2 separate regions of the Homo sapiens genome follow, and region 2 is linked to region 1. Evidence: fine-mapped expression QTL. A gene starts in region 1. The other region holds a variant in brackets. All regions are shown on one strand. Distances are between the middles of the regions. Region 1 holds the start of NAV1 (neuron navigator 1). Region 2 overlaps NAV1 (neuron navigator 1).

Region 1 (11,838 bases):
GCCCCCGACACATGCTTAGTGGAATTCTCCCGTGGCAGCCCAGAGTCTCCGGAACGAAGGTCTCCACAGCCAAAGCCACGCAAGAGGCTCTCCTGCTCTCATTTCCAGACGCACCCTCATCCTTGGCCTCTCCCTGCCTCAGTTCTCTTTGACTCCTCCGGTCCTTGTTGCTGCTCAGCTCCAGGGCACCCCCACCTCCCAGGACAAGTCCCCTGACTTTACAGCTTACAGGCCCAGAATAACAGATGGCCAGAGGCATCCCATTCAAGACTCCCCGCCTCCTTCCTAGCTCCTCAGTCTCTCCCACCCCAATGTGGTGGTGCCCAGGGAGGGGGTCAGGAAACCACAGAGGGCCTGTGGGAGGCGTACAGCTGGGGACAAGCGTGGGCTGGAAGAGGAGCCCAGTCTGTAGCTGAGACTCCCAGGGCCTCATGACCTTCCAGGCAGCCTCCACCGCTGCTATGACAGGCAGATGCCCGACTTTCCACCTGCTTTCTGACCTGGCTTTGGCAAGGCCTGAGCACCTGGCCTGCTTTCCCAGGAGTACAGTTACAGCAGCTGATCTAGGGAACAGGTGTGGGCTCCGTGTCACAGCTGCTGCTGAGCACATCTGTACCCACAGTGAGGAGGCTGCAGCTGCAGCAGGGCCTGTCAGTCACTCATACTCTCCCCGGAGTTGGGCTGGGGGCACTGAAAGGGCCAGGGGTGGAGAGAATCTGAGATAAGCATTCACAGAGCACCTTGCTCCTAGAGATCCCAAAGTGTGACCCCTGACAAGGTTTTCCCACAGTCAGCCTCACTGGCACCAGCAGCGTGGGAATTAGGGCTGGATTCTCCCCTTCTGCCTTGCTTCCCAGCCCTTGGGCCACAGTCAGCTCCTCCTCCTTCCTGGCTAGCTCAGCTCAGCTTTTGCAGGATGGAACTCTGAATCCTGGCTTCCAGTGGCTCTCCCAGAAAACTAGGAGGGAAGTGCTTGGAAGAATGGCTCTTTATTCATGCAAATGATTTCTTGCCATTTAAGAGCCTCAAACCACAAAATCAATTAAAGAGAAAAGGGGAAGATTTGGGGGTCTGTGCCAGCCACTGGATGCAATGCTTTACCTCCATCATCTTATCAAATCTTCCCAGCAACCCTACTGCATAGCTATTATCAAGATCATTTCTGTTTCCCAGAGGAGAATTCAAGGTTACACAGTTAGGATGCAGTGAATCTGGGATTTGATTGCCGTCCTGACTCCAAAGCTTGCACTCTGACCACTGGGCCACACTGCCTCAAATCTCCCATTCTCTGTTAAATCCAACATCTGAGCCCCATTCTTTCTCCCTTGCAGGGAATCACCTGCCTACCTCCACCTCATCCATTTCTCACCACAGCTGGATTCACCTCTACAGCCTTTACCTCCAGTCGTATTTGGCAATTCATCCTTTTCCAGCTCCTATCATCCTCCCCTACCCTCACCAAAGTGGACATCGCAGCCTCTAAATCTGAACGGAGCTGACACCTAGCACCCACCCTCTCACCAGCTACCTCTGGGTTCCCCCACCCGGTATTCCCTTCCTCACATCCAAGCCTGTTCCCCTCAGGCCCTGTCATGGCCTGAAATAGTCTTTGCCCCTGTCTACCACTCTCCAGGGTCCCTCTTGACACCTACTTCTGCTTTCCCCTCTCAAGACACCTTTTCTTGGCATTTTAAGACTATTTACTGACTATTTATTGATATAGGAAAATGCTTACAGAATGTATTAGGAGTATCTTACACTTTTTTAATAATTATGTATGTAATACATGAATAGATTCTCCTTGTAAAAAACAAACTCAAACACACAGAAAAAGTTAATGACTCCCTTGATGACTGCCAGTTTGAAGTGTTTTTCCAGACCTTAAAAAAATATACTTTCATACAAGCATATGTACATATAGAAAGATATACTTTAATGGGGCATCTTTCATCATAAATTGGATCATAATGTGCAAATTGTTTCACAACTTTTATTCTCTGTTTGTTTTCAGACAGGGTCTCACTTTGTTGCCCAGGCTGGAGTGCAATGGCACAATCATGGCTCACTGCGCCCTCCACCTCCCAGGCTCAAGCCATCCTCCTATCTCAGCCTCCTGAGTAGTTGAGACAACAGGCATGTGCCACCATGTCTGGCTAATATTTTAATAAAATTTTTTGTAGAGACAGGTTCTCCATATGTTGCCCAGGCTTTGATTCTTCTAATGCTCGGTATTAAGACTCTATGACTGTGTATTATACATAGAGTTTACATGTGAGTAAGTTCTGGGTGGAGAGACACTATTCCTTGCTAGGGCCTTAAGAGTCTGGCTGCAGCTCTGCTATCACATGGGCAAAACCAGCTACATAATTTACAAGATCCAGTGCAAAATAAAAATGTGACATTTCTTGTTAAAAATCATTGTGAATTTCAAGATGGCAACAACAAAGCATTAAACCAAGCAGGGGGCCTTTCTAAGCTTGAGCCCCCGTGTGACTGCACAGGTCATATGCCCATGAAGCTGGCTCTGCAGAGACTAGCTGACCGTTGGACTGGCTGTGTCCTGGATTCTTTTAGTTAATGCATTCCGTGTTCTGACAATGGACATTCCTGTCTCAGCCTCCACATTGGATCTGGTCCCCTGATTCTGCACCCAACATTCCTCAGCCACATTCCCTGCTCCAAAGCCAGAGCTCTATGTATTCCAGCACAAGCAAAGTCCCAGGGTCCATGCCTGCCAGTCAGCATTGCTCTGGAGGCACCCACAAAGATGGCAAAGATGGGGGGTGAAGGGGGTATTGGACAATGATATTCCTGTGCCTCGAGTGGAAAGTCTCTCAGGAGATAAGAGAGGACTGAAGTACCAACCAAGAAACCCGGGTTTCATTCCCAGCTCTGCCACTAAATTTACTGTGTCCTTAATTGGCAAGTTGCTTAACATCTTGGCACTGTTATCTCTTTATCTGTTAAAGGAGAGAGTTTGATTAGATTGTCTTTAAGACCATTCCCACTTCCAGCTCTAAAAGTCTGTATTTAAGTGACTCTAAGAGACTGTAATAATAATAGATAACATTTGTTGACCATTACCTTATGCCATTTACATGTTGATTTAATGCTCATAACAACCGTATGAGGCAGGCACTGTTATTCCCATTTTACAGTTGAGAAAATTGAGACTCAGTTTAAAACATGCATGGGGAACAAGGTAGCTTTTTGGGGTGGTGGAAATGTTCTAAAACTTGGTTCTGGTCATGGCTGCAGAACTCTGTAGATTTAGAGTTGTATATTTCGAGTGGGTGAATTTTATAATATGTAAATTGTACCTCAATAAAGCTGTTGAAAAGAAATAAAGAAATGTGCTGAACTAGTACATGATCAAGCTCTCCACACTGCTATGGAGACTATCAAGACTCCTTTCCTCTGCATATATGTAGTATTTGAAAACATGGACTCAGGAGCCAGACTCCTTCAGTTCAAATCCTACCTCTATCACTTACTAGCTGAGACCCAGACAAGACACTTGACCTCAATTTCTTTACCTGTAAAGTGGAGATAAAAAGTGGTACAGATTTCATAGGGTTGTTGTGGAGATTAAATGGGTTAATATATGTTAAATGCTTAGCATAGCAGTTGGCACACAGCAAATGCTATATAAGTAGGGACTATTATTATCTTCCATACCACAGGATTGCCACAGCCAGAACCAGGCTTCTTAAAGGGGCAGGTTTTCTCCCTGCAAACCCAACCCCTATTCTCCTGGGCCCCTTAAAGAAACACCTCCTCTTCAAAGGCCATCTTTGGAAAAACACCACGATGGCTTTCAGTACATCTCACTTCCTGGTAACAGAGAGAGAGTGAGAAACAGCATCTTCCCGATAAGGCAGTGACTCGCTCACTCTCGTAAAACATTCATTACTCTGACAGCTTTTCCCCATGGACTCTTTCTCCCAGGTCCCTGTAAGCTCCAACAGTCAACACAGAGGGCCCTTCTTAAAGGGGGCCCAGGGCCAGTCATGAGGCCCGAGTGGCCAAGGATGGAGATGCCTGTTTTGCCCATGTCCAACCCCATTCCACTAGCCTAGGAAACCCCTCACTGGTTAATGAATCAAGCTAGAAAGGACAAGGATTTTTAGTGGCCAGTCAGATTTCTATCACTGAAAAATGGGTTTTCAAGCACTGAGCCCATAACCACAGTGAATTTGACTGGGGTGGGGAGGTGGGGCGGGGTTGGGAATATGAGCTGATGCTTTCTGTTTGATAATCCCACTTCTGCTTATATGTGAGCAGCACTGCAGAAACCATTTTCTCCTCCATGATCTCACTGAATACTCACCATGCCCTTGGTAGGTGGGTATTCTTGTCCTCTGGGTGTCAACACTCCCTTTTACTGATGAGCAAACTGAGGTGATGCACTTCAGCCAGCATCAGAACCAAGGCATGGAGTCAGGTCTTCTGAAGCTGGGCCCAGTGTTTTTCCACTGTGCTTCAGAGGAGGAAGTCAGAAGCTGCCTCGGACTCCTCCTTAGAAGCTCCAGTGACGCTTATTAAGTGCTCAAGAAAATAAAGCAATGTGCTATCTTCATATTCCTGCCAAGGACCTTACAAACTGCTCTGGGAGCCCCAAACAAGACAGTCCGAAGGATAAAGACAGTCTCCCTGTGGGCCACGTGGAACGCAGGAGCTGTGAGTGTGTTCAAATCCTCAAAGTCCCATGTCAGATAACCCAAGAAACAAATTAGCATTGGTCCACAGACCTCAAGGCGGCAGGAAAACAGGCAAAGCCCCCAAAGAAATCAGGCTGGGGCTGAAAATGTCACTTGCCATACTTCCTGGGGTTCCCAAAACTCTCATCTCGTCGGAGGCCGGATCTGATACTCTATGGGAGTGACAGCAAGCTTCTGGGCTGATTTTTTAAAACTTATTTGTCAGGTTGACATTAATCCTTTCGCTACCCATCTTGTCCCAAAGCAGGATTGGCTCTAAGCTGTGGAGGAGGGGAACAGAGGGGCTGTTGGGTTTTAAGGAGCCTCAGTGAGGCCAGCAGGTCCTGGAGGCCACCTTCTCGGTGGGGAGTGGGGGTACAGGTGACTATGCCAAGGGTCTCCTGCAGTGAACCTGAATCTCCCTCCTTCCATCACTCACAAATCATTTCACGCCCCAGCACCTCTCCCACTCTCTCCATCCTCCCCTCCCCACAGCGAGGTCCTTGCCTTTACCTCTTATTGATTTTCATATTTAAGGAAAATCCATTTGCTAGACTCAGAGCAACTGAGTCATCACTGTGTTCAGACAAAAACTACTCACAAAGTAGGCATTTGGCAGAGGCCACTTCTGGGATGGGCGGGACCCTGTTTCTTACCCAAACAGTGCTCTGTCCAGAGTCTCTTCTGGCTTCTCCTCCCTGCCGCTCTGTCCTATCCACTTTCTCTTTCAGTAGCTTTCATATCCTCTGCCTGTCACCCCAACCAGACTGGCCCCTTTACTCCTTCCTCCCTCAACCTGTCCATATGCTATTATGTTTGCCTACACATACAGGTTCACTGTTGGAAATCTGTGAGTGGGACATTTTTCTGAATTTTTATTTTAGATTCAGGGGGTACATATGCAGGCTTGTTACCTGGGTATATTGTGTGATGCTGAGGCTTGGGGTACAAATGATCCCGTCACCCATATTGATTGGGACATTAGGAGCAGGGTGAGGGAGAACTTGTATGAGCAGCCACTCATAAGTGGGAGAGAAATATTGATCCTGTGTACTGATAGAAGAGATCTAACCCTTACGAAATTATAGCTTTGGCTTTCTTTTCCATTCTGGGTAGCACCCAAGGAATGACATCATCCCAGCATTACCAATGTGGATGGGGGCTATGCATCCAGCCTCACAATGGGTCAAGGAGTCATTTCACCTTCTGATAGTCATTTGCATACCTACTGTGTGGTCCTTGGTCCCTGGGGTCCCACCTTTTGAGCTCTCAAGAAAGGACAGTGCTTCTTCTTAAAGGACTAGGCTCCCCTTTGCAGGACTGGGAAGAGCACAAAAGGATTCTAGCTAGCACATCATTGAATGCCAAACTGGGCGCAGAGTTACATCTCCAAGAGTTAGATCTCCAAGAGTTAGATCTCCAAGAGTTAGTTACTCCAAGATCAAAGTAACAGCTAATGTTCACTGAGCATTTACTATGTGCCAAGCACTATTCTAAGTGTGTCACCTATAGTATCGCATTTAATCCTCCCAACACTCTTAGGAGATAGGAACCATTATTATCCCATTTTACAGATAAAGAAACTGAGGTAGCTAGAGGTTAAAGAGTTCAGTAAGTTCCCATGGCTAAAAAATCATTGATCCAGGATTTGAACTCATGCAGTCTGCCTTAAGAGCCCACACTTCTAGTCTTTATACAGAGGGTAAGGGTGTCACTCTGCAGTCCACCCCCTTATCCCGCGCCAAAAGGCAGTTCACTCCCTTCATGGACAAAAATCATACAACAAATCTTTTTCCCTGATCAGTTGGGAACTTCTTGAATGTCACTGCTTGTCCATTGTCTGGTGTCTCATCTCTCCAAATTCAAAGCCACTGTGGCCTTACTGACTGTGTGGGGCGTTCAGGGAGGACTCAAGGGCTCTCATCCTGACTCTGCTCACACTGATTTTGCTGGCAAAGAGCTGTGAGACCTCCCAGGGAGTAGGCAGTTTTGCTTTCTATCCATCAGTCCTCCAACTTGCAACCCCATGGCCCTGGGAATAGATCAGTCCTCTTATTTGTTGGCAGGAGCAGGGGAATCTGCTGGGTCCTTGGCCACAGCTACTCCCTTTCCAAAGCCTGCTTCAAAGCTCAGGTCATCTGGCTTCCTTCTGCCTTCTTCCTGCAGACCCTGGAAGTCCCCAAGCCAGGAGGCAGGGGGCTTGCACTGCTTCTGCAGTAGGTTCTGGCTGAGGGCCTTCCTCCCATTCACTCTCCTCAGGTCCTGTCATTTCCTCTCTCCTCTTCTTCCCCCTCCTCCCACTCCCAAGTCCCTGGAAGAAGGAGGAGGGGCATCGGCTGTCTGGAAGGTGGGGAGAAGTCACTTATTTTACTGAGCACCTACTATTTGCGGGGCACTTGCGGGGCCTCCCCCTCCTCTAAGACAGCTCAGACAGCATGACAGTTCAGTGGGGTGGAGAAAGAAAGGAGGTGGGTGCCCGGGGTCAGAAGTCGGGTGGAGAGGCTGGCCCATCCATCTGTCCCCTTCTCCTAAAGAACTGCGGCTGAACCAGCGAGCGGTACCCGGACGACATGTGGGGGAGGGAGGAAACCCGGCCTGGAAGTGGCGGTGGCGGGTCCCCGGGCAAAGGAAAGGCTCAATTGTGCAAAGGCTTCCTGCCCTGCCAGCTCGCGGGTCCGCCACCGAGCAGCCGCCTTTCTGCGGCCAGCCTGGGAGGCGGGACGGGAAGGCGAAGGCAGCAAAGGGTTACGGGAATAGCTTTCCAATGACAAAGTCTGGAAGGGACCCATGCCTCCGCCCCTCTGCGGGTTAAACTGGCACAGTGCAGGGGGAGGAAAGCCAGGGCGATCGGACGGATTCTCTCCTCCTGCCCGCCCCCCGGCCGCCAGGCACTCCCCTCCTGGGCCCGCCGTGGAGGCAGCCGGCGTGTGCCTGGGGCAGCGGGTCACGAGGCTCCGCCCCGGCCGCCGTTCCCGAGGGGACGGCACTTTGTTCAGGATGCCGCCTCCCTCCTCATTGTGGGGCCGGGGCCGGCGGCTGCCCTAGTGCGGGGCCCGAGGCTGGAGTGCGCGGCGGACGCCAAGCCTGGTGCGAGGGGCCGAGGCGGCCTGGGGAGCCCCGGGAAACTTTGTGCTCGCGAGAAGCGGACCCCGCACCCGCGCTGCCCTTGGGGATGCGCGACTCTGCGCGGCTGCGGCGCGGACCCGGAGCCCGGGCGGGCAGGCGCTCCGGTGAGTGGCCGGCGCGGGGCGGTCGCGCGGTCGCGGCGCTGAGGGTCTGGCGCTTCCCGTTTTGCGAGGCTTGGCTGGCAGGTCCTGCGAGGCCGAGACCAAGTCTCGGGGTAGGGGAGGTTGGTGCCCGAGGGAGGCTGTGGGCTGGGCTCGGGAGAGGCGCTGGAATAAATAACAACCAAGATGCTCGCGGCTTCCCGGGAAGGTGTGTGCCCTTTCGACCCCTATGGGACTGACTGCGCGTTTGATTCTAGAGTTGACTCTCCGGGGGGGCTGCCTAACTTCAGTCCCTCTGAGCCTCAGTTTCCTTGTTGTGAAATACCCACAATTTAAAGTGCGTTGAGATCTTATCATGAGACACCAGGTGCTGCGTTCTTATACTCGCACCCACACGGCAAGCACACACCCTACCCGCACCTCTGCCTTTCGTTGAAGCAAGAGTTAACTCCTCCCATCCCAGCAGGAGCCAGAGGAACAGCTGGGGCAGGTGACCTCGCGGGCCGTTCCAGAAAACGTTCCCCGCACCCCCGGGATGCGCCGGGAAGCGCCCTCCCGCCAATCTCCCGGAGGCCGTCCTCTCTGGCGCCCGCCCAGTGCGTCTGGGAGCGGAGAAAGTGGTCCCGGAGGAGAGGGGAGAGAGGAGAACGCAGAAATTGGGTGATCACGGGGAGCTCACCTGAGCGCTCCCGAGGCTTGGGCTCTGGTCCCTGCTAATCCCCAGAGCCGATAAAAACTGGTCATAGGATAAAGAAGCAGCTAAGTTTGCAGCGGGCAGAGGGGAGGCAGGAACTGGAGAGGACGCGAGTGGCGGGTGGCGGGGGCGGTGTGTAGGGGTGACGTCCACCCGGCAGAGAGGGTTCCTTGTCCCCTGGAGCCGAACACAGGAAAATCAGCTGGTGAGTCAATGGGACTTTGTTAGGATAGTCACAGGGCGCAGCTGGCGCCGGCTTAAGGGAAGAGCTGGATCCCCCCTTGATAACATGCTGTTTATCTGGCTTCCTGTTTCAATGATTGGGATACCATTGGCTCGTTCAAATTCAATGCTGAGAAGCCTGTGGGCACGTTCGTTCACTGTGCAAAAGCAGAGGGCTTGCCTGGGTTTTCATCTGTGGGCTAGCTCTTGTTCCCCCTACATGAAGTCCCCGGCAACTCACTTGTAATGGGACTGGAGACTTCGCAAAAAGAATGGCCTCCCCAGGAGGAGGATCTGACGATCTGACACTGCAGAGACCTTGGCTTCCTTTAGGCCAGAGATATATATGATTCCAGCTTGCTTATGACATTTTTTTAAATCCTGCTTTGACTTTTTGTTGGTGTGTCTTTGGGATTGACCTAAGAAGGGAGACAGAGGGAACAGCTCTATGGATTTTGTCTTCTAAGATGAGCTTCCTAGTAGTATGTGCTTTCACCATCAGTTTTTAGGGGAAGTTTTCAATCATCAGTTTGTAGTTCTCTATCTGGCTGTGTTGCTAACCACCTGGATGATCAGAGAGCAAATAATTCCTCATGTCTCTGTCCTGGTTTTCACTTCTGTAAAGTGGAGCCAGGAAAAAATCGCTACGGTTGGAAGAATAAAGAAGGTTTTTCAGATTTGGGCTCCAGCCCCTAGGGTCTATTTCCTGAACTTTCCAGGTGAAAGAGAACACCAGGTGAAAGAGAACACCATTTCCGGGTGAAAGAGAACAGCCCCTGATCTGAACTTCTTCAGCAGTTTATCTGATTTCCCTTGGGGCAGGTCTCACATTCTGCTTTGCATTTTTTGTTTTTGTTGATTGTCAGTGTGCCATGCTTTGTATTTTAGATATTTGGGTGTTTGTGCACATGCCTATCTTCCTGTGAGTACCTTCCAGCCAAACACCCTATCTGACCACCCACAACACTCAGCACACAGTAGGCACTTTATAGATGCTTGCCAAACTAATAGAATTGGGGAGAAAAACTAAGTAGCATTCAAAGGCCTCCTATCTCATTTAAGTGCCATTTATTCATTCTTTGGGAGTTAATTTGCTCCCCCAGACCCCCTCTACTTCTTTTTCCCTCAAAAGCAGTTCATAAAAATGTTGATTTGCCCATGGGTAAGTAGGCAAGCTTTGAATATTTGGGCTTTTTCTGGGATCTGGCTTCTTTGATAAACCTTGGCCTGGGGAAACTGAAAACAAGAATGCTGTTTTGGCCAGGTGCGGTGGCTCATGCCCGTAAGAGGGGCGGATCACCTGAGGTCAGGAGTTCGAGACCAGCCTGGACAACGTGGTGAAACCCTGTCTCAACTAGAAATATGAAAATTAGCCGGGTGTGGTGGCAGGTGCCTGTAATCCCAGCTACTCGTGAGGCTGAGACAGGAGAATTGCTTGAACCCGGGAGGCAGAGGTTGCAGTAAGCCGAGATCATGCCATTGCACTCCAGCCTGGGGGCCAAGAGTGAAACTCCATCTTTTTTTTAAAGGAGTGCTGTTTTTCCTTTCTTGCCTAATCTAGCCCCCTCCTGAGTCCCTGTGAACCTCTGGTATCAACTCAGTTTGGGCCCAGTAGAAAGGAGTGGCCTAGAATAGAAAAATCTCCTATCCATCTTTTACAATTTGTCTCTATTTTTGCCTTCCTATTTCCAATCAGTGTCACTTCCCTCTTCTTTTAAAGTTCTTTTGACTTCTTGAAGGGTTTGGCCTTTAAGAAAAACCAGAATGTCAAAGTTAAAAGGATCTCCACTCCTCCCAACCCCTGCTCTTCTCCCCTTTACAGGCAAGAATCAAGGCCCACTGAAGGGAAGGGATGGGCTCAGAGCTACACAACTGGGGTACTGCAGAAGCCCGCCTAGAATGCAGGGCTCCTGGCTTTCAGTTTAGGGCTCATTCCCTTTCAGCAAATCACTGGGAATTTTTATCTTCCTAGCGTTTCCATCTCAGCAGATGTTACTTACCTCTTAGCTAGAGAGAGGAACAGAAACATATTAGGGTCAAGACAGCTATCTCTGTGATGGAAGCATCTATCAACTTTTCGAGTCTCTGGAACATGGAGAGCTAAGAAATGTGGCAATACTTGGCAAACACTTCGTCTTTCTGGCCCCTAGTCACACACAAAAAATAATAATTAAAAACACTTTTAGTTCCTTCTTCAACTTAAAAATACCCCTCCAACTAGTCTAGCGAAAAACACCCTCCACAGTAAACCGTTTCCTGGGCCTCATCTGTTCCCTTAACCTCCTGGGAAGGCTGACTCAGGCCTGATTTCCTCCGAGAGGCCTGCGATTTTGCTTCCCAGCATCCTGTGACTCTTGAGACGTGAAGCGAGGCAGGATGGCTGAGACCCAGGCCACTCTGACCTGCCTGTGGATGTGGTTCAGGTTCTTACACATGTCCTGTGCAGTTCACACTACCACCCCATCAAATCTATTTGCTCTACTTAATTTTAATATGAGATGCACTAATATGCATATAAAATTAAAGGCTCTGATGCATGTGCCTCTGCCAAGGACCGTTACTAACAAGATGATTCCACTTCAAAAGACTGCAAGACTGTTCTGATATCCAATCCTCAGATGCTCTGAAAGCTTTCATAAATGGAATTGTTTCTTAATTTCCTTTTTGGCTTGTGTATTACTGGTGTGTAGAAACACAGCTGATTTTTGTGTGTTGATCTTGTCCCTTGCAATTTTGCTGAATTTATTAGCTCTAGTAGCTTTTTTGTTTCTGGATTCTTTGGGATTTTCTATACATAGGATCATGTCAACTGTGAATAGAAATAGTTTTACGTCTTTCTTTCCAATTTGAATGATTTTTATTTATTTTTCTTGCCTAATTGCTCTGGCTAGAACTTTCAGTATAATGTTGAGTGGCAGTGGTGAAAGCAGACATCCTTCTCTTGTTCTTGATCTTAGGGGGATTTCTTGATTTTAGCCTTTCACCAGTGAGCGTG
Region 2 (12,207 bases), 180 kb after region 1:
TCAGAAGGATAGCTTGAGCTCAGAAGTTCGAGACCAGCTTGGGCAACATGGCAAAACCCCGTCTCTACTAAAAATGCAAAAATTAGCCAGGCGTGATGGGGCATGCCTGTAGTCCCAGCTACTCAGGAGGCTAAGGTGGGAGAATCGCTCAAAACCAGGGAAGTTGAGCCTGCAGTGAGGCGTGATCATGCCACTCCATCCCAGGAGACAGAGTAAGACCCTGTCTCCAAAAAAAAAAAAAAAACCATTGAACTTTTAGGTTACTTTTCTCATTATCACAGAGTAGCGGAAGCCCTAGATACCTTCACCCCATCCGGGATGCTCACCCTCACAGGAGATGGTGAGAAAGGGGTGAAGCTTAGTTATGGGTTGGTGGTCAGAGGTGGGGTAAGGTGAAGATCAGGAATGGATGAGGGTTGAGAGGTGAAGTAAATTCCCTTGGAAATGTAACTTACTCATATTTTTAAGCTAAAATATAAAAATTCACCTTCAGGGTCATGGGTGTGAATGTCAGATTGGCTCCTCAACCTAGGCCCCCTCTGCAGCCTCTGGAGCTCTGGAGGCCTTTCTTTTGTACACAGGTAAGTCCTCTTGGCCTGAAGCTGTGGCTGTACCACCCCGGGAATGTGTCTGTCACCTAGCAATGTGGAGGAAGCCAGACTTACCAGGGGCCCCAACCCTCCAGACCCACCCTGGGCTGAGCCTTGGAGAAGCAGAGCGGCATACCCATGATGGCCACCAGGGGCCACTGCTGGGGCACAGAGGGAGCTGCAGGGTGTAGCCTCTGCAGGGCCCCTCCAGCCTGGTAGCAGAGACCAGATCCTGGTCACCCCCAAGGAAACCAAACCCTGCCCTAACCTCCTCCCCTGTATGCCCCAAATCTATACCTGTGGGGAAGCTGCCTGGAGTCAAGTGTTCTTCCATTCGCATCTCTGTGATCTCCAGCTAGTCCCTACTTCCTGGACCTCAGCCTCCCAGCTCTCCAGAGACACAGCAGGATTAAGTGACTTTCAAGGACTCTTGTGGTTTGGCGACTCTGGGAGACTCTGAAATAGTCCCACCACACTCTGCTGATGTGGAATTGAGGAAGGGGCTAGGATAGAGGTCTTTGAGGGAAGAGATATGGAGAAAGAGGGTCAAACCTGTGACCTAGATGTCTATGACTCCCATCTGGAGCATCTGGGGCATTAGGGAATGCAGCATGACTCTCCTGAGGCTACTGTGTGGTTTAAACATTTTTCCTTAAAAAAAAAAAAAAAAGACATTTTCCTAACGTGACATGTATGTATCCCTTTACTTTTTTTCATGGGTTTTTGGAAATTTTAAAAAATTGTGGTAGCATCCATTCTTGAAATGTTCACTAAGCATCTTCTTTGTTTTTTTTTTTGAAACAGGGTCTCACTCTGTTGCCCAGGCTAGAGTATAGTGGTGTGATCATAGTTCATTACAGCATTGAACTCTTGGGCTCAAGTGATCTTCCTGCCTCAGCCTCCCAAGTAGCTAGTATTACAGGCTTGAGCCACCTGGCCAATTTTTTTATTTTTATTTTTTATATAGACAGGATCTCCCTGTGTTGCCCAGGCTGGTCTCAAACTCCTGGCCTGAAGCGATCCTCTGGCCTCGGTCTCCCACAGTGCTGGGATTATAGGCATGAGCCACTGCTTGCAGCCTAAGCGCCTCCTATACAACAGTCACCATGCTTGATGCTAGTGGTGCAGAGATGCCCTGTGATATATCAAGACAAGTATGAGTTTCTTCCTGGGCTCAACTCTGCCTTGTGCTACATGCTAGGTGTGTGACCTTGGGCAGTTTACTTGTTCTCTCTGAGTGTCAGTTTTCTCATCTGTTAAATGGGGCAGTAGCACAAATCTCCCAGAAATGTTGCAAGGATTCAAGTAGATAATGCATGCAAAGGGTCTGGCACACACAGAAGTCTCTGAGTAACTCTTGATCACCTTCCTCTTTGGGAATACACACCCCTTGGAGATGTGTGTGCCTGTCCCTCATGTCTGCCAAGCCCATAAAAAGCATCACCCTGGGCCAGAAACCCACACCTTGGCACCATGTTCTTAGTCCCCACATAGGCATTTTAGAATTCAACTTTATTTCTTGGCGAGTCTAAAAAATTGACCCTGTCTGTGTTTCATGCCAAGCCATCAATTAAAGCCATGGAGCAGCTTACAAGGTGACACTTGCCAGGATAAATAGGCATTGGCGGCCACGGAAGTGATGCCAGGACTGGGGATAGAGCTTAGGCCACTGGCATGGTGGCCTGCCATTTGTCCCTGATCCTTGCCACCAGCATGGAGGCCTGGATTCATGGTGCTGACCATGAGAGGATGTGGGGGTGGAGAAGCTCCCCCTGGGAGGGGAAAGGAGGGATGGCTGGGCTTGGGTGTGGAGCTGGTTCTCAGAAAAGGTGCCCAAAAGGCTCTGGAGAGGGCATTGCAGGCTCCCTGCCCGCCCCACCCAGCCTCCCCTCCCTGACAAGACAGTCAAGCAGCTGCCTGCCAGCCGGCCTGAGCTTAGTCTTGGGGGAATAAAAACCTCTTGAAGAGATTCAGAAATGTTCCCTTTGGCAGCTAAAAAAAACCTTACACTCCTGCTGAGTCTGTGGGCTGAGGAGGGACTGAGGGGGCGTTTGGCCTCTGCAGCAGCGGCAGAAGGCTTGCGGATGGAGGGGAAAAGGGAGCAGCCTGGAGAGCCAGAGTTCTTGGGTTTTCTCTGTTGTTTTGCCATCATCTTTCTGTCACTCCCTGACTCTCTCCTGCAGATTGTCTTTTAGGGAGGTACTGGGGGACTTGGTTCCATTCATGACTTTAGGTTCCAAAATGAAAGATAAGCCATGGGGCAGGGCCAGCTTCTCTTCATTATACTGTCCTTAGGGCCCAGGGTGGTGCCTGATGTGAAGTAAGTGCTTGATAAAGATTCATTGGATGAACTGAAGGAAGGAAGAACATTCTTTGAGTTCCTTCATGCTCAAGCACCTCTCAGTCATTTGGACGTTATTTTCACCCTGTTTGCTGTTGTAGATTCTCATCCGTCCAGGCTAATATCTGGACACCAGGGTTGAATACAATGGCTCTTGGTGATTTGGGATTCTGAGGATTGGGCCACACCCATGCATCCTTCTCACTCAGGATTGCACCACTTGTGTGGGGACTGCCCAGAGCTCACTTCAAGCTCCAGAAAATGACTGCTCATCCCTTCCACCTCCCACCAGCCACCTCACCTTTAGGAGACTATATCTGAACTAACTTCCTGGGACCCCATAGAGCAACCCCAGATATTACCAGTCAGTGCCTGGGTTTAGGTGTACTGAAGCCAGCTTGTACCAGTTCCCCAGAGCCAATTGTTAGCCCCTCTTCCTAACTCTGTGGTCAGTGACATCAGATTGGTAGATTGAAAGTGGCCATGATAGGAGGCTTTATACCAGGGAAATTGGCAAACACCACACATCGGTGTCCCCTTCCTCCGAAAGCCAGTTGTTAAACATTTACCAGCACAACCCTGGATAGGGGGTTTCAGGCAGATGTTCCAGCTCATCTCAACCACGAGAAATCTTGCCCAGGACCTCTGCTATGAGAAGCAGGGCCTCCCCAAAACAAAGCCAGAGGTAGAGGCAGTTCCTTGGGGGCTCTGAAAGGAGTGCACAGACACAGAAAGCCATGCCTGTACCCCCTGCCAGGATCTGGGGTTCAGAGGGCTCAATGGCACATGTCCAGGGCCTTTGAGAGGGCCCATTCTGTTGGTTGTCTTTGGGAAAGGGAGGAGGAAGGTGACTATCATGGCCCAGGGACTAGCCTCCTGGGGACACTGTCAATCTCCACTTCCTGACCCCCAGGATCCCAGCATTAAGTTCTCTTCACTCACCCAGCTCTTCCTTCTCTCCCTACCAGACCCAGAGTCCCAGAGAAAGAGGACAGTGCAGAATGTCCTGGATCTCCGGCAGAACCTGGAAGAGACCATGTCCAGCCTGCGAGGGTCCCAGGTGACTCACAGGTAAGCTCGAGCTGCAGAGAGGGTCATGCCCTCTGCCTTCCTGGCTCTCCACCCCATTCTGGAGGGCAGGGCCCCCGGGTCCCTCCACACCTCTGCCAGGTCAGCCAGGTGGCCTGATGCGTGGAGCCACTGCAGAAGGAGGAGGAAATCCATTTATCTCAACAAGAGAAGCTTGGCTTTGTCTTCTGTCTGCTTGTGCCTGAACATTTCATTTCATTTCAGCAAATCAGCTTGAAAATCACTAGCTTAGGAGCCAGGAAGTGGAAGCCATTACACAGCTCAATGTGTGATCTTTGATAGTCAGTCTCCTTCATTAGACCTCTGTCTCCTCAATCTGTCAAGAGAAGGTTTACTAAATGCTCTCTTCCTGTTCCTAAGTCTCCATTAAACTAGGGGTCTAGAATCAATTCCCTTCTCAACACCTGGGTCTTTTCACTCTTGTGTCAGTTAGGTGCCCCCTGGCCTCTTCTACGAGCCACTGAGGGAGGCTTGAGTGCTCAACAGGGCCCACACAGTGTCACCCAGCTCCATGCCCTGTTAGGTGTGTCCCCCTAGCCCACTCCCTGCAGAGACCTCATAGCCTCCAGCTGCATGGGGCACTCAGCCTTCCCACGGCACCTCTCTCTGGAGCAAAGTCCTGGCCACAGGCTCTGCTGTGACTCAGAATTTCCCTTGCTGGCTCCTTGGACTGCCCAGATGAGCTCATGCTGTCAGCTCCAAGTGGGGCAGAGGGCTGGGCTAAGCTCTGGGGACAGCGGGAGGCAGAACAGACAGCCAGATTGGGAAATCATGGGGGGTGTGGGGCAGGAAGGCTGTGTGAGGGCTAGGAAGCCTCCCCAGTTAGACTGGAAGTAGATTCCTCTCCAACTCCTGGGGCTGGAAAATTAAGAGCAAAGTTGGGACACAGGGGCAGTGGAAAAGGACTTTCTTTAGCCCAGGGTGTGGCCATTTGGGATTCTGAGGATGGGACCACACCCATGGACATATTTACATACCACCAATGACAAAGAACTCATTACCTTTCTTTTTTTATTTTTAACATAGGCTTTTTAAAAATATTTTGTTATTATTTTTAAAGACCGAGTCTCATTCTGTCGCCCACTGCCTCAGCCTCCCGAGTAGCTGGGATTACAGCTGTGTGCCATCACGCCCAGCTAATTTTTGTATTTTTAGTAGAGATGGGGTTTCACCATGTTGGCCAGGCCAGTCTCAAACTCCTGGCCTCAAGTGATCCACACGCCTTGGCCTCCCAAAGTGCTGGGATTACAGGCGTGAGCCACCGCGCCCGGCCAACTCACTACCTTTCAGTCACCCCGGTGCATTGTGGGATTGCAGCAACTCTGATGTGGAACTGCACTTAGTCTTAAGTAGCTTTCAGCCGTTGGCTGTAGTTCTTCCTGCTTAGATGACCCTTCTCCTTCTCCTTCCTTGTACTACTCCTCCCCCTATCCCCAGCCCATGCCCGCATCTTGGACACTCAGCCCTTTACTCCCAGACATCTCGAGTATTTTAAATGGTAAGATAAATCAAAACTCTCTGGGGATTACCTCTGCTCAGGCCAGCAGAACCCTGACTACTGAAAGGGAGGTGACCAAGGAAGTCCTGGAAAAAGGTGGATGGTGGGGGCTCCAGGACCCCCTTACATCTGTCCCTTACTGCCATCCCTCATAGCCCCAAGCCCCCAGCAGGAGCCCAAGTGAAGCAGGGATCTGGCAGAGCTTGGCTTATCAGTTTAGGACCCAGCGGATGAAATCTTGGACATCTGCCTTCCCCCATCCAAGGAAATTGTTGGAACATCTCTCAGCACCAAGTCACCCACCAGCCTCATGCCAAAGACACCAGAAAGTGCTTAGTTGCTGAGAGGGCCACACCCCAAATGACTCACTCACAGGAGTAGGAGAGAAGTAGCAGCTCCAGCCTCCTGGTGCCACTGACTCAGAGCAGCCAGCCCCCAGTCCCTCCGTTAAGCCGGACAGCTTGACCCTAGGCAGGCGCTATTGGTTTTCTGCTTCTAGTGGGAAAGGGGAGGCTTCAATCAAGCCTTTTGCATAATGCTGACTGGTTTAGGGGGAGCGTCTAGGGCCTCTGGCTTCTGCCTCCCTTTATAGGAAAGGAACCAAGAGCCCCGGAGCTGGTTTTTCTGTTTACTGTGGACCTAGAGCCACTTCCTCTC[A/G]TAGGCTTTGGTTTATATTATTCCTGTTCCACACTGGTAGCCAAAACAATGATTCCCTGACTTTTTATGGCTCTTTTTTTTTTTTTTTTGAGACAGAGTCTCACTGTCTCCCAGGCTGGAGTGCCTTGGCATGATCTCAGCTCACTGCAACCTCTGTCTCCCAGGTCAAGCGATTCTTCTGCCTCAGCCTCTGAAGTAGCTGGGACTACAGGTGCGTGCCACCACACCGGCTAATTTTTGTATTTTTAGTAGAGATGGGGTTTCACCATGTTGGCCAGGCTGGTCTAGAACTCCTGACCTCAGGTAATCCACCCACTTCGGCCACCCAAAGTGCTGGGATTACAGGTGTGAGCCACCACGCCCTGCCGGCTCTTTTACTTTTTAAAGGGCTTTCTATCAATGAGCCCTTCCCTTAGCCCTGGAAGTAGACAGGATATATACATACTCCCTGGGTTAGAGAATGAGGCTGGGGGCAGGGAGGCACCTGCCAGAGTCACGCTGGCTGATGAGGGTAGGTTCTGTACTCTGCATGCTCAGAACCCATGCCAGCTGTGTGCCAGGCACAGCGCTGGGCACTGGCTCCCCAGAACACACACAAGCTTCATCCTCGGAGCTTATGGTCCAGTGTGTGCTTCCTGCAAGGCTGTTTTCACCCAGGAACTCCCAGGATAACTGGATTCCATTCCTTTTCAGAAGCCTTTACTCCTGTGCTGCTTCCTCAATTTCTACTGGTTCATTTCCCCCAGCGAGGAGAGTCTGGGTCAGACTGTGGCTGGAGAGGAAATGAAACTGTGTCCTCCCCAGAGAAAGGCAAGCCTGAAGGGTGGGTGCAGGGCTGGAATTCAAGAACTGAGGATCTGAGCTAGAATCCCCCTCACCAAGCTTAAGTCTAGAGATGTCTAGAGATGTGTTTGGGGGAACTGAAAAAAAAAGAGAGAGCTGTGGAATAGGGGAAGAGGCAATTTTAGTACAAATAACTAAACAGGGGCAGGCCAGGAATAGAATTGAGGAACCCAGATGCTGAGTGCAGCCCTCACTCCCACACTAGTATATAACCATGGTGTAGGCTAACTACCCAAACCAGCTTCCCTGGAGATCCCCGCCACCCTCTTAGTATGGTTAGCATCATCCTCTTCCTCCCCTGTCTCATCCCATGGTCAAGGTCAGCTTGCTTTTATCAAGCACTTACTGCACAGGGCGCTGGACTGAGTTTTCTGATGAGAACTTCCTTGCTTTTTACTCACACATCCATCGTGGGTTTGCTCCTCTTTGATTCATTCTAGAGCACCAGCTCTAGGCCAGGTGCCATGCAAAGTGCTGAAATACCGTGGTGAGTGAGCAAGGCAGACAAAGTCGCACCATCACTACAGTCTCTGGCTTCGGGGCACATCGGTTTCTGTCCAAGGAGATGTGATGTCTAGGTCCACAGTAATTAGAAGCCGAAACAAGACACTGTATGAGGCAGAGCTGCAGAACACAAAGGGGTTCCTAAAGGGCTGCCAGAAGCAGGGTGCAGTGGCTCACGCCAGTAACCCCAGCACTGTGGGAGGCCGAGGTGGGAGGATTGCTTGAGTTCAGGAGTTCAAGACCAGCCTGGACAACATGGCAAAACCCCATCTCTATAAAAAATACAAAAATTAGCCAGATGTGCTCATGTGTGCCTGTCGTCCCTGCTACTTTGGGGCTGAGGCAGGAGGGTCACTTGAGCTCGGGAGGTCAAGGCTGCAGTGAGCCGTGTTTGCACCACTACACTCCAGCCTAGGCAACAGAGTGAGACCCTGTCTCAAAAATAAGTAAATAAGTAAAAAGAGTTGGCAGGGCCAGGAGGGGAGCCGCTGGGCATGGACACGGTCAGGAAGCCCTCCAGAGGGCCAGAAGCAGCTGCCACTGATTGCCCTGACTGGCCAGGGCCTCCCCCATCTTGCCCACAGGACTACTGCCAGGACCCCAGCACACTCAGTTTCAAGAGCGTTTGGATCCCTCAAGTTCTGCTGGTTAGAAAATAAGACCGTATTTTCTCAGGTCCAATAGAGACAACTTTGGAAATTTTTCTTCTTTTCAAGGAACTTGATAGAAACCAGAATGGAAAAATCAATGTCCCACTCCCATTCCAGCCCCCAAAGTGGCTAAGCAATGGATGTGTTCACAGAGCAGTGATTGCTTGGGCTCATGTAACTCATGTCCAGCCACAGATTGCCTCAGTTGCCCCAGCTTTCTTGGCCACCAAACCCCGTTTCGCTTACTTAGTCCTGTCTGGCTTAATTAGGATAAGTTATGGAGACCCTGCCTGAGGCTGATTTGGGCTGGCCCCACTGCTAGGCTAGATGGAATTATGGGTCTCAGCCTGAACCCAAGTCCAAGCCACCCCTTCAACCAGATTCCAGTTGTATTTCCTCTCTGCAGCCCGCCTGGCCCTATCTCCTTCCCTAGTCCCCCAGGTTCCCCTAGTCTCAGGCCATCCAGCACTCACCTGGGCATTGCTCCCTTGGCCTGGTCTAGCAGGGCCTGAGGCTTGAGACTCTGGACATTTGGCTTCACCCCCATGTCTGGTTCCCTGTGTCCTCTCCTTTGTCCAGTTAAGGCTGCTTCTATTCTCTGGGGAGGCTTATTTCCCCTGCTGCCCTAGGCCTGTGGCTTGGACCAGTCTTACTGGGGACCTGCCATACATCCCAGATTCCCAAAGCTTTTCCTATACTCTCTGCACTCTACTTCAGCTTTCCTATATATGATGTTTGGGAATCAGCTAGCCCTCAGCTAATTACTAGAAGAGAGGTGATGGACACACCATTAACAAAATGACCAAGGCCTTCTAAGCTCAAGTGACCAGTCTCTCCCACTTGCCTCCAGGTCTGTTGACCCCTTCCATATACCAGGCACTGTGTTCTGTCTGTACATATGTGATCCTTACAACTCTATAAGGTAGATGTTATGCCATTATCCCCATTGTACAGATGGGGAAACTGAAGCTTTAGTTATTTACTTTCCTTGGGCTCCTTTACTAACCAATACCAAAAAAGAATTCAAACCTAGGTCATATTACACAATCTAGGGTCTTAACAGTATACAGGATTTCTTCCCTAGCCACTTAATTAAGATCATTTCCTTTGTCAAACAGATAACGTATCACAAAGGTAACACACAACCAGAGGCCTCATGGAGGAGGTGGAGCTTGGGCAGGTGGGGAGGAGGTGACAGGGCCTGTGGGTGGAGGGGAGGCATTGCTGGGGTGCATGTGAGGGGACAGGGCACACGGCGGCTGTGCCAAGGACTAAGTAGTGCCTTCTGCTCTCCACCCAGCTCCCTGGAGATGACCTGCTACGACAGCGATGATGCCAACCCACGCAGCGTGTCCAGCCTCTCCAACCGCTCGTCCCCTCTGTCATGGCGCTATGGCCAGTCCAGTCCGCGGCTGCAGGCTGGTGACGCGCCCTCTGTGGGTGGGAGCTGCCGCTCGGAGGGGACGCCCGCCTGGTACATGCACGGCGAACGGGCCCACTACTCCCACACCATGCCCATGCGCAGCCCCAGCAAGCTCAGCCATATCTCCCGCCTGGAGCTGGTCGAATCCCTGGACTCGGATGAGGTGGACCTCAAGTCCGGCTACATGAGCGACAGTGACCTCATGGGCAAGACCATGACGGAGGATGATGACATCACTACCGGGTAAGCGCAGGGGCTTCTTGGATGGCGGGGGAGGATGGTGGAAAGACCACTGGGATGCGACGCCTTAAAAGTGGAGTGGAACCCAAAACGGGTTTTGGTTTGCTGTGCTGCTATGAAAGTACACAAAAGTGTGCTGTGTACACTTTGTGATTGCCTCTGAAATTCGATGTGGTTTATTCTAGACTTGGGTGTGGTGTAGGCAGGGCCTACATCCAAGGAGCTGATTGGTCAATGAAGGCGCCTCCCTCTCATTGGTCTCTGTGGCTGTCATTCTGTCACCCTCCTCCCTGGCTCTTTGCCCTCAATAAACTGGCTCAAAGAGCCTTGGAAAAGCATTTTATTCCCAGCTCTTATGCGAACTCTGTGTAGACCCTGGACAACTAAATCTGCTTTCCCATTTGCAAAAAAAAAAAAAACCAAAAAGGTTATTAACATCGTATCTGTCTACCTAAGAAGAGAAAATGAGAGCTTGTGGGTGAAATCGCTAGTCAAACAGTGAGTAGCAGCAGTAGCTCCACTTCCTTTGCCAGGGGTTCGTAACCCCTCAGTTCCCTATCCGACCCCTGTGGTCCTCAGTGTCTGCTCCTTGGGTTTCTTCCTGTGCAAACCTTCTACCAATCATGCAACTTCCTAATCCCTACCCAGCGTGTCAAATCCTTCTTTCCTGCCTTTTGCCCTGCAGGGACCCTCATCTTCTTATATTTTTCTGCCTTAATTGACAGAGTTGTGCCTATGCCTTCCAACCTTGGAAGAGTTGGCCAGGACCCCAAGCCCCCAGCACTTCATTCTTGCTGTCCTCTCCTGGTCTGGGAGGATAGAAGAGAGGATAGGAAGAATGAAGTGCTGGGCGCTTAGGGGGATCCTGGCCAACTCTTCCAAGCCCAGAGACAGGAGAGAGGCAGTGGTTCTGGAAGCTTCTCTGGAGCACCTCTTAGCCTACTGCCACTTTCACTCTCCCTTCTTGGTTTGCTGGTGCCCTCCTCCGCCAAGGGGCCATACAAGTAGCAGCAGCATCCCTTCCCTTCCTTCTCAGGGACTTAATATCTTACTGCCAGGGCCTGCCTCTCCCCAATAAAAATCCCAGACTTCAAGGGAGTGGAAAGTAGCCTCTCCTCGGAAAAGACGAGAGCCAAGCTCCAGGCCATCCACTGTTCCCCACCCCCATCTCCACCCCTGCAGAGAACTTGGAGGGATCTGGTTAGGGCTTGTCCAGCTGATGAGGCTGCTCTGGAGCAAAACAACTGACGCATGAATGGAGTTGTTTACTGCCTGTTAAATCCCAGGGGCCAGCCCAACCTCGCGCTCACGCTCAGATCCACCAGCCTGGAGCTGGGACCAGAGAAAAGCCATGCAGTGCACAGATCCTGAGCTCCTTCTGTGGTCAGAGGCCTGTGCTGGGCAGGAAGGAGAGCCAAGGTGTGTGAGGAGCTGCTCCACACAGCCTCTGCCCTAGGAAGCTGCCAGGGACTGCCTGAGGAAGTGTCAGGTCACTGCCCTCCTCTGAGAATCCCAGGAGGGTGCAGAGGGTGGCACAAGCCCTGCGGGGCTGAGTCTTTAGAAAGTCCCCCATGTGTTAGAAGAACCATAGCCCTAGACCCTAGGGAGCTTCCAGACAGGGGAAGTGATAGGACCCCTGCCCAGCACAGCTCCCAGATTGATGGAGGTGACGGGGCCCCTGCCCAGCACAGCTCCCAAACTGATGGAAACGAGATCCCTCTGAGAGCCCTTCACCCCACCAACCCACCTGATGGCCATGGCAGAAAATACCCCAAGTGTTGCAAGGTACAGGAGCCCTGCTTGGAGACGTCGCAGTCTGAGGAAGGTGGCAGGACTTCCGGCTCTTAACTAGCTGTATGAGCTTGAGCAAACTGGTTCACCTCCCCAGGCTTTCTTTCATTTGTCTATCTGTCAAATGCAGATAACAGTAGAACTTATCTCAGGGTTCTGATGAGGATTCAATGGGTTAATATATGTAAAGTACTTAGAATAATTCCTGGCTCATTGTAAATGCTCACTAAATGATAGCTATTATTTTTGTTGCTATATTATTTTTGTTGTTATTAGAGTCCCAGACTGATGGAGAGACATGATTCTTACCGTCAGGGGTGTGTAGTCTGACCAGAGTCCCACTTACTCAGCATCAGCAGCAAAGACAGATCTAGTAGCAGCTGGTCAATCCCAGGGGCATAGATAATAGGCTGTGGGGGCATGGAATGCAGGGGGAAAGGGTAGGAAAGACCCCCTTTATCCCCCCTCTAACACCCTTGCTTTATCCTCCTTCCTCTGGACAGGATGTGTGTTCCCGAATCCATTTTTTAAAAATTAGAGTTCACCGAGACTAGCATGAATAAGAACTTGCCTTCCCTGCA

Evidence for each region.
Region 2: its variant is fine-mapped to the expression of NAV1 in whole blood (INTERVAL, PIP 0.96).

Annotation. Positions count from the first base shown.
Region 1 is chr1:201,531,413-201,543,250 of GRCh38, forward strand. It overlaps NAV1 (neuron navigator 1), which reads left to right and starts at 7,715. Exons shown (of 34, transcript NM_001389617.1): 1 at 7,715-7,930. LOC124904484 (a long non-coding RNA gene) reads right to left here and starts at 8,733. Exons shown (of 2, transcript XR_007066793.1): 1 at 8,607-8,733. It overlaps CSRP1-AS1 (CSRP1 antisense RNA 1), which reads left to right. Exons shown (of 2, transcript NR_160747.1): 2 at 2,012-3,372.
Region 2 is chr1:201,708,918-201,721,124 of GRCh38, forward strand. NAV1 (neuron navigator 1) reads left to right here. Exons shown (of 34, transcript NM_001389617.1): 6 at 3,900-4,002; 7 at 9,473-9,838. All of the region lies in intron 2 of IPO9-AS1 (IPO9 antisense RNA 1), which reads right to left. It overlaps MIR5191 (microRNA 5191), which reads left to right and starts at 10,591; the gene lies at 10,591-10,710. RefSeq lists enhancers at 4,012-4,700, 4,544-4,838, 10,707-11,353. The variant A/G (reference allele first, on the strand shown) is at 6,176.